3 linked regions of the Homo sapiens genome follow. The protein of the gene in region 1 purifies or fractionates together with the protein of each later gene. This does not show direct contact. Each region holds a gene or a part of one and is shown in the gene's direction. Other genes may lie near its edges.

Region 1 (3,658 bases):
GCATGAACATGTACTGTTTTATCAATCTTTTTTTTCGGGCGCATGGCCTGGACATTGACTCAGTGGACTCTCATTTATTAGTGAGAAAACTAATTGGAGGATATATGGAGATGCAGAACTCAGTAGAAAGCCAGAACATTTATTTGGATGGGATCTTATTCTAATCTGAGGTAGCATCATCAAGAAGAAATAAAGATCTACATAAGTTGCTCCAGGAGGGGGCTAAACCTGTCATTTGGCTATTGTGATTTCATCAAATTGATCACTGTAACTGTCATCTTTGTCTTGAAAAGCATCTGCCACTAACAAAGGCTGTTCCCCTTGGAAAACTATTAGCTCTCAGTGAATGAAAGTTATTCAGCACACTGAATAAATTGTCTCCTGCATGAGACAGCATTTGATAATTCACACTTTTATGGGGAATATTGAAAGGAAATTTCTACATGACATTAGGTCACATTCCTAATTACAGTTAGCATAAAGTCAAGCCCTTAATGTTTTAGTTTTTAGCCCCTAAGGAATATTTTTCAGAACAGGTATACAACATTTTTAGAAGAAAACCAAAAATTATTATTTTCTGCAATAATAAAATCTATTAAAGAAAAATGAAAACTTTGTGTATATTTTTTAGTCCAGTGGTATTTTCAAAAAGATCAAGGACAGTAAGGATCTATTTTCCATCTATATTTTATATACATATAGAATAGCACAGTGTTGGACCTATTTAAAACTAGCTAGGTGTCTTTCATGGTCTATAACCAGACAGGTTGAACTTCAAATTTATTTTTAATAGAGGGCTATCAAAAATGCATATGTAGATTGTACCCTTATTAATTTTTTATTTATTTGGCATGGGATTATATTCATTATTATTCATCCCAAAGTAAGAAGTATATAAAAATCATCTGTGAATATTTCTGACATTAATAATAATTGTAAAGTAGTAAGCTTTGTGCTGCTCATCAATTAATGCAGACCATGGCATTGAGCATAATAGTATTTAACAAACTGTATGCTTTCCAAAAATGCTGTGTGGTTTTTCAGTTGGAGCAGCTTTTGATGTTTATCTTCAAGAGTTCCAACGGGACTCAAACCTTTGGAGCCCCATTGAATTATTTTCAGCTACTGTCACTATGACCAGCTAACATGACACCTAACCTCATCTGGTTATACAATAGCTCTAGTGGCTGGCAAGTAAGCCAGCTGATTGTCTAAGTTTTAGTTTGAGGTTTCAGTTTGTTCCTTTGTAAGTAAAATGTATCACCCTGTGATTTCAGTGATCCAAGGAGCAACTGGCAACTGTAGAGTATTATATCACTGTTCCTATGGAAACATGTAAAATGGATTATAAAATATCTGAAATGTGTATTTTATTTGGTTCACTTTATTGTGAATATCTGATGCTACTTTAATGCTCCCTTTCTGATTATACTCTGGTTGAATTGTCTTCTGTTTAAGTTAAATCTTTAGTTTGCTCATGTATTGTTTTCTTATGATATACTTTTGCTTCTATATATTTTCAATAATAGTAGGTTCTTCTCAATTTATTGTATATTTTAAAAATGTATAGACAATTACTGTGCGCAGGAAGGGGTATATCCGGTCCTCCATGCCAAAGCACTCTTTCACCATGCTGGGAAACTTTCTAGAGAATGAGTAGAATGTACAGTGAAGATCAAGTTCCTTCCTCTAACTTTTGTTTCATTTTCTCTCCACAGGAACTTTTTACCCCTGAATGCAAGTTTAAAGAATCTGTTTTTGAAAATTATTATGTAATCTACTCATCCATGTTGTACAGACAACAGGAATCTGGTAGAGCCTGGTTTTTGGGATTAAATAAGGAAGGGCAAGCTATGAAAGGGAACAGAGTAAAGAAAACCAAACCAGCAGCTCATTTTCTACCCAAGCCATTGGAAGGTGAGTATTATGCATGCATTATTATTACATAGACTTATTACATATTTTATTTTTCAAATTGATAGGTCTACCATGGCTCTAAGAAACCTTCACAAAGTGCTGGAAATGTCATTTATTTTGATCTAGGTGATGGTTGCACAGGTGCCTACTTAAGTTATTGATTTAGAATTTGTGCCCCTTATACACTTTACTATATTTGTGTATGTATGTGTACCAGGAAAAATTTCTTCTCTGCCACCTCCAAAGGCTCAAATCCTCACTGCTACAACCACTCTAACCCTTAGATAATTTAAATTAATTAAGTTAAAACAATTTTAAATCTGTAATGATACAAATCTGCGATGATAAGTATATTAGAAAAAGATAATAAGTATATTAGAAAAAATAAGTTTTGAGCGTGGAATCAAAAGTATTTTCCATTTTGATATTATCTAGGTGAAAGTAATTACCTACTTGTGGATTATTATAATTACAGAAAAATAAGAGATAATAGCTTGACTCTTAAAGAACTTGCTGATATTACACATCTGCTTTCAAATTGTGTAATTCTTCACTGTATACATTTGTAGCATTACTTCTTTTACTAAAATAATTTATCCACATTCATTTGTGTGCAGGAAGGGGTATATCCAGTCATCCATGCCGGATGAATGGAAATTTCACATTTACTCCAATCAGATACCCAAAGAGCAGGCTACAAAGTTTTTTTAATTAATCAACAACATCTGCACCTCTCTCATTAATGATTCTGCCAAAAGTGTCATTTACTTTTATCTATGTAACATTTGAGAATTACAAAAATATTTGATTTTAGGATATTCACATGTGTTTCTATTCAAGTTCTTTTGTTTACTCTTTTGCAGAAGATCAGATCTACAATAACTCAGTAAATATTTTAAGCTAGCTTGGACAGCTCAATTTTCTTTTTGTGTTTTATTCCTACAGGAAAGGCTTAGCCATCACGAGAAAATGCATATTGTTTTCATAATGCATATTCTCTATATTGAAATAAAATAATTTAAAAATTTGAACAGTCAATTCTTCATCATCTGTGAGTGTATAATTTTCAATTTGCCTAAATTCAGAAAATCGCTCTTGTTGGCTAATACTACTTCTGTAATTTCAATGATGTTGACTTAGTGTCACTCTTAATTATATTTTTCTGTAGAACAATTTATTGAAACCCAAACAGTTAGCTACCAGGGCCTATACAGGAAAAGACAGATTATTCCAGAGTCTGAAATATGAGTGAATTATTCTCAGTATATGGTGGATCATAAGGATGATTAGAGTAGAAAGAAGTTAGAGGATTTCCCTGTTCCTCCCAAAAAAAACACATCCATGATACACTTTCATTGTTTTAAATAAATTTTGATAACATTGGACTCACCTATATTTAAATGCAAATAAAAAATTAAAAAATAAGCCCACAGAAGCTCTAATAAGACCATTGTTTATTTGCCACCGTGCTTTATCTCTTTTCACTCATTTTATGTTTTGTAAATAGTTAAGAATTGACTAGATTTTTAGAACCTTACCCTTTAGCTGCATAAATGTAACAAAACCCAAAAGGGCTGTTATGTCATTTAACCGAGGTAAAATTTGGGAACCAGTTATTTTGCATATCTCATAGAAAATATCTGAGACAACAATGATGTGGTATAGAATGATACTTGGTATTTCACTCATGTATTTGTTATGTGTATATGAGTGTTTTGTGTGTATATATACATATATATAT
Region 2 (3,658 bases), on another chromosome or scaffold:
ATACATTTTTGATTTTGGGAAAAGCCCAGTTTATAAAACATTTCTTTTATGAATCATGGCTTTTGGTATTCATATCTAAGAAATCTTTTCCCAACCCAAAGTCAAAGATGTTCTCCTGTGTTTTCTTAAGGAAGTTTTGTAGTTTTAGGTTTTGGATTTCTTTTTGTATAAGGTGTGTGATATGTGTTGAAGGTTGAGGTTCATTTGTTTGCATGTGGATGCAAATATCCAATTGTTTAGCACCACTTGCTAAGAAAGAGGATCCTTTCTCTATTGAATTATCTTTGCATTTCGTAAAAAAAAAATCAGTAGACTTAATATTGTGTGGCTTTAGTCTGTCTCAATCTGTGTGTCTATCATTTCACCAATACTACACTGTCTTGATAACTGTGTCTTTGTAGTTAGTCTAGAAATCAGGTAATGTGATCCCTCTAACTTTAGTCTTTAACAAATAATTTAAAAAATAACAAGTCATTGTCCAGGTGTGGTGCTCATTCCTGTAATCCCAGCACTTTGGAAGGCTGAGGCGGGAAGATTGCTTGAGCATAGGAGTTTGAGATTACAGTGAGCTCTGATCATGCCACTGCATTCCAACCTAGGCAACAGACAGCGAGACTCTGTCTCAAAATAAAATAAAATAACATGTCAGTGTTTTATTTATAGAAATTGGTTATGTTTTGATAAATGAAACTTTAAATAATAGCTGGAGTATTTTTTTAAAATATTCTTTGAGAATTTCAAAAGTAGTAATTTGATAAATTTGGAGGATTTTTTAAAAACATTGTTTGAAAATTTCTGTAATAGAAACTAGGTGGCCAGGCATAGTGGCTCATGCCTGTAATCCCAGCACTTTGGGAGACTGGGGAGGGTGGATCACTTCAGACCAGCCTGGCCAATGTGGTGAAACCTCATCTCTACGAAAAAAATAAGATACAAAAATTAGCTGGGTACTGTGGCGCTCGCCTGTAATCCCAGCTACTCAGGAGACTGAGGCAGGAGAATCACTTGAAGCTGGGAGGCATAGGTTGCAGTGAGCTGAGATCACACCATTGCCCTCTAGCCTGGCCAACAGAGCGAGACCCTGCCTCAAAAAAAAAAAAAAAAAAAAAGAAACTGGATGCTGCATAGGAAAATTTTAAGATAATATTTTATGGTCTAACGTGAAGGACCTATTGGTAGTTGTAAATGTGTGCTTTTGCTAGGCTTCTGAAATAATCCAGCAAATTTCAATATTAGCATGTTACTATAATAGTATCAATTAGTATTCAGTCATTGCTAATAATGGATGGTGCTCTGAAAATTTGTTGCTGAGATGGATTCTTTGGAAATCAGAATGCATTTTTCCCATGGAAGCATTCTTATATATGAATGAGGACTTTTCCAAAAACCTGTTTAACTATAATGCAGCAGAAGAGTGCTACTGTACTGGGTTCAATACAGTAAGTAGACTCACTGCTAGAAGACTCTGTCTTACAGGGGATGAAAAAGGAATTGAGCTTCATTCCAGGACTGACTCTTGGCAAATTTTGATGTTGGTAAGGTATACTTTTTATACACTTCTATTTATAATTCTCCCTTCCCATATATCATCTAGTTAGAGAGGTGGTAATATTTCATAGACTCATCTGAAATTTATCTTCCCAACTTTCTCCAGCAATTTTCTTTTTCTTTTTCTTTTCTTTTTGAGACGGAGTCTCGTTCTGTCACCCGGGTGGGAGTGCAGTGACGCGATCTCGGCTCACTGCAACCTCTGTCTCACGGCCTCAAGTGAGTCTCCTGCCTCAGCCTCCCGAGTAGCTGGGATTAAAGGTGCCCACCATCATGCATGGCTAATTTTTGTATTTTTAGTAGGGACGGCATTTCACCACGTCAACCAGGCTGGTCTCGAACGCCTGACCTCAAGTGATCCACCTGCCTTGGCCTCCCAAAGTGCTGGGATTACAGGTGTGAGCCACTGCGTCCGGCCATTTCACATATTTTCTTTAAGAGCTAGGCTGCATCAGAATCAGCCATAGGTGCTTATTATGAATACAGAACCTGCCCCCAGAGATTATAAATTATTTATCTGGAGTAGGACATGAAAATATTTTTTTAAACAAATGACACTGGGGACTTGATGCACAGTTGGGTACATTTTAAGAGAACATTAAGGGGAAAAGTATTAGAATTTTAAATAGACAAAAGCAGTAGTAAAAGTGGCTTGTGTGATAGAATTATCATTTGTAACACAGGAAGTACCTGTACTTCATAGCCCCTTCTTAAGTTAGCCTCCTTTGTCTCTATTTTGTTTTCTCCGAAATCACAATACTTGGACAAATTTGTAATTTTTTTTTGATAATGCCTGACATCTTTATGTAACATTAGAAGTTCAGATTTCTTGTCTATTAACTAACATACGTATTCTGTTTTTGAAATGTTAATCTCCCAGTTTTCCCTTTATAATAGAATCATGTGTTTAGTGGCCACTTAGCTGGATACCGCCATGATACCAGAAGCAGTACAAAAGATGAAGATTCAGTTAGGATACAGTTTTCGATTTTTAAGGAGTCATTCTTCTGTGCCCAGAATACACTAGGGAGCCAAACAAATGATTCTTACAGTCTGGTGTTAATGACCAATTCTAATTCCTTATGTATTATTTTTATATTTATGTTCTAAGATACTTTAATAAAACTTTAAAGACTATGAAACATTTTATTATAAAAAGTGTTAGGAGATTTTACAGTGCCTCTCCATATACCCATTATCTAGATTCTGTCATTAATATTATGTATTAACAGCTTTATTGACGTATAATTAACATGCAGTAAAATACACGTTAAAGTCTACAATTTGATAAGTTTTAGCATATATGTGCATGCAGGTAACAATCATCACATGATAATGAACATATCTGTCATACCTAGAAGTTTCCTTGTGCCTTTTTGTAAACCGTATCTTCTAACCCTCCTTGTCCCTTATACCCTTCTTGTCCCCAGGTTTTTGCTGATTTGCTTTCTGTTACTGCATATTAGCTTGAGTTTTCTAGACTTGGATAAATGGGATTGTACAGTTTGTATTCTTTCAGTCTGGCTTATTTCAGCATAATTATTTTGAGATTCATCCATGTGGTAGTACAATCAATAATTTATTCCTTTTTATTGCTGACCATAGCAAGTGGTGGTGAGGATGTGCAAAAACTGGAACTCTGTTAATATGTCTCCTGGGGATGTAAAATGTTAAACAACTTGGGAAAACAGTTTGGCAATTTCTTAAAAAGTTAAACATACATCAACCATGTTATCAAGCCATTGTGCTTCTACATGTTTACCCAAGAGAAATGAAAGCATATGTTCATACAAAGATTTGCACACAGATGTGCATAGCAGCTTTATTTTTAATAGCCCCAAATGGGAAACAGTCCAAGTATCCACCAACAGGTGAATGGATAAACAAACTGGCATATCCATATAATGGAATACCATTAATATTTAACCACACATGTTTTGTCACATACCTGTCCATCTGTCCATCTCTCTATCCATGCAGCAATTCATATTATTAAATGTATTTCAGAATAAGTTGTAGAGATGAGCTCATTTCCTCCTAAATACTTCAGCATGTGTATCATTAGAGTGCAATATTTGCTTAGTTTTTTTCCTTTTGAGGTAAAATTTAT
Region 3 (3,658 bases), on another chromosome or scaffold:
ACCTGAAACACAAATTGTCTGGATTTGTCTTTAAATGTGGCAAAAGTCAGGGGTGACAGATGATGACATTTTCTCTCCAGCTAAAGCTGGGTGCAGGAGCTTGCTAGGTGAAGCAGACACTACTTCAGCAGTCAGTCCTGTAGTGACCTCTCAATCTTGTAAGAGAAGGAAAATGTTTTTTCCTAACTCTTTTTTTTTCAGGAGAGTAAAAAGAAAAAGGGAGAGACCAGTGTAATTTTTAGTCTTTTTTTTTTTTTTTTCACTGTAAAAAAGGAACTGGGAGCTATCACTACAAACAAACAAACTTGGCATTTAGCACTTCTGCATTTGTAACTTTTGTAACAGTGTCCCTTCTGTTTTCCTCTTCACAGGGCACACATAATTTTTATTGCAGCCTTAGGGGGCACTAACCATCCTGGTTTGTGCAGATTGACTGGTGTCCCAGCATATGGGGCTAAAACCGGGAAAATTCCAGGCAAACTGGGAGGAACTGGTTACCCTGTGTAACATAGAACATCCTCAACTATGTCATTAATATAATAATGTAATTAGTTCCTTGTATGTGGACATTAGGAGTTTTATATTTTTTGGTAAAGTGAGATAATTTTAAGTTTGGGAAAGAAAATTTTGTTAAATACAGATCTAAGGCATTTGACTCAAAGATAGCCATGAAACCTTTTTGAAAATTGATTTGATATTGACTGTTTTAGGGTGTTCTTTATGTCATATAGTTAAAGGCACTGTAGTCATTTTAAGTGTGTGGTCGTATCTTCAGCCTGGATCTCTACCCGAAATTTATTTTCAGAGTTATGAAGCTAGGATGGTAAGTTCTGTTGCATGTTTAAAGTGTCCACTATTCTTACCTGCATTTGTTAATGATGGCAGAACACTACTTTCATCTCGGAGGCTGCCTGCAGACAAACTGTTTCAGCAGGTGGCCTTTTTGGAGCTTCCTGCCTGGAGGCCTTCTGGTTTGGTGTTCCCTTGCCAAGTCCTAGTTCACACTTGAGTCACCTACCTTCTTGCCAAAGGCAGTGGCTGGCAGCGGTGGCAGTGGCAAGAGACTAGAAATCCTGTGTAACTTTGGGAGCAGGATTTCTAGCCCATAGTGTGGGGCCTTGGGACGTGTTACATATTTTACTGGGCTGCCCTTGTTCTTCCATGGCTCCCTAGAGCACTGGTGTTAAAGCAAACAGTATGCTGTAGTCCTGTCTTCAGCATAGAAGAAGGGAAAAGAAAGGCTTTATTTAGAACCTTTTCTGGTTGTTTCAGGACCCAATCACATGGTTTTGAGAGTGCACTTGAGGCTGGTGTTTCATGGCAGAGACCTAATAATGTCACACATTTATTGTGCTCTTATTGTATACTGGGCCTTTGCAGTGAATCATGTCTTAATCCTCATAGCCACACTAGGAGGTAGGTGGTGGTGTGATTTCTATTTTATGGATGAGAAAACAGGAATAGAGAGGCTAATTGACCGGTTTAGGGTCATACGCCCAGTAAGTGATCTAGCACACTGTCCTACCCTGGCAGTCTGATTGCACAGGTGGGGCTCTGACCACAAGGCTATACTTTTCATAGTTGAAAGGGCAGTGCAGCCATGGGATTAATGGGTGTCTGATCTTGTTTACAGAGAAGCCATTGGATGAACAGCGTTCCCTGAACTCCTTCTGCCTCTTGGGCCAGACCCATTTCTGTACATAGTAAGGAGCTGCTCTGAGGCCTCTGCCCCTGCCTGGCTTATACCTGGCTTTTCCCATTAGCCTCTCCATTTCCTCACCCCGGTGAATGATGTGTTGGTAGTTCAGTGATTTTTTTCATATATATATATATATATATATATAAAACGAACTGCGGTCATTATAGGAAAAGCAGAAAGCTAGATGAGCAAACCAAAAAATTTTAAAACCATCTGAAGCCTGTATACTCAAGAGATAACTATTCTTGACATTTTGATATGTTTCCTTCTAGTCTTCTGTCTGGGTAGCCAGTTAAAATTTTTAAACTTTTCGTGTGATAATATCATTACCTTTCACTTGTGCACATAGCTGATATCTGTGTTCTCTACACCAATGACTTTTCCAAATAAACTTATTCTTCTCTTACATATATGATTGGCTCTTTAGCCAACGCCAGCACATAAGCTCTAGCTCTGGATTAATGGAACTAACTTTTTTCTTTTTCTTTTCTTTCTTTCTTTCTTTTTTAAGATTTCAACTTTTTACTTCCTCTTTTGCTGTAAACAGAGAGCAAATACGAACTCAAAAAGGCACAAATTGTTTGTACCAGAAACAGAAATGAAAGATTCTTTAAAAAGATTTGTATTTCTACAAGATAATGTGAATTTTTATAGGCTAAAGTATAGCACGAAATAATTTAAAAACAGGCAGAGCTACAGAGATCTGATAATTTTGTGATTTCCAAATTTGTTTAAGCTATGACACTCCTTTTTTCCCCCGAAGAAATTTCATATTGAAGCTCAATATATAAAAAAGATTGGCTTGGACAGTGGTCCCTGAGTCCCTCTTGAAAACTGGTTGGGTTTAGTATTATTTGAAAGCCCCTTTGTATGAGAAAACTCCTGGTGATTGGTTAAGTGTTTTTTGTTGTTGTTTTTGTTTTTTTTCCTGACACATCATGTATGAAACAACATTTATAAATGTTTGTGAATGATTAGGAACTACACAGAACTAGGATGACTATATCATTTTTATCCGTTTGAGAATCATAGGTGATACTACTCAATATGAAGCCACAAATAGACGTGAGCCAGGACTGTCCTGGGTAAACCTGGATATGTGGTCATCATATATTCACATAGACTCCATGTTTGCTCACCACAGGCTTGACAGTGACAGTAAACTAGTTTGACTAGCAGACTACTCTGTCTCTTTTGAGTCAGGTCTACAGTGGTGCAGGTATTACAAAGATTGTTTTATGACCTTGTGCAGAGTTGGGAAACAGCTTCCATGTCACACATGAGTTCTGATCGGTCCAGGACTTGCAGGTGTAATGTGATAGAAACATTCTGACTCTTGCAGTCAAGGATCCGAGAAAGTGTGATTGATTACCAGTGTTTGCTATGGGTACACGGGAAGGGAGAAGTGACATATGTTGTACATTAGCCAACCCTTGGCAAGACATGTTAACCTCTGTAGGCTTCAGGTTTCTCTTTGTAAAATGAAGAGGTTGGACTGGATGCCTTTATGGTGCCTCAGCTCTGCCCTCTCCCTTCTGTGACTTGGTGCCTGTAATGGAGACCGATGCTCTTCACATGGTTTGTGTTATAGCATTTCTTACAAATGTGCCTATGAAGGGTGTATTTGCAGATGAGCTCTAATAAGGCTTTCCAGGTAACAAAGTCAAACAGCTTCAAGTTCCAGAGAAGGATTTTAACCCATGTCAATGACTTAGGACTAATTCCTATTCTCCACCCTACTTCAATTCATAGATAATCTAAGATTACCCATTTTATTTATTCTGTATTTTTATTTTTTTGGGACAGAGTCTCGCTCTGTTTCCCAGGCTGGAGTATAGTGGTGCAATCTTGGCTCATTGCAACCCCCGCCGACCCCCTCCTGGGGTTCAAGTGATTCTTGAGCCTCAGACTCCCGGGTAGCTGGGATTACAGGCTTGCACCACTACGCCCAGCTAATTT

What was found.
Region 2: the proteins of FGF14 (region 1) and VPS13A purify together in Homo sapiens (affinity purification with mass spectrometry; one large-scale study listed by BioGRID and IntAct). This does not show direct contact.
Region 3: the proteins of FGF14 (region 1) and ANKRD44 purify together in Homo sapiens (affinity purification with mass spectrometry; one large-scale study listed by BioGRID and IntAct). This does not show direct contact.

Annotation. Positions count from the first base shown.
Region 1 is NC_000013.11:101,724,871-101,728,528, reverse strand, and holds part of FGF14 (fibroblast growth factor 14), read left to right. Parts: intron 1-1,718; coding exon 1,719-1,917; intron 1,918-3,658. UniProt on the Homo sapiens protein: Probably involved in nervous system development and function.
Region 2 is NC_000009.12:77,180,428-77,184,085, forward strand, and holds part of VPS13A (intermembrane lipid transfer protein VPS13A), read left to right. Parts: intron 1-3,658. UniProt on the Homo sapiens protein: Mediates the transfer of lipids between membranes at organelle contact sites. Binds phospholipids. Required for the formation or stabilization of ER-mitochondria contact sites which enable transfer of lipids between the ER and mitochondria.
Region 3 is NC_000002.12:197,304,154-197,307,811, reverse strand, and holds part of ANKRD44 (serine/threonine-protein phosphatase 6 regulatory ankyrin repeat subunit B), read left to right. Parts: intron 1-3,658. UniProt on the Homo sapiens protein: Putative regulatory subunit of protein phosphatase 6 (PP6) that may be involved in the recognition of phosphoprotein substrates.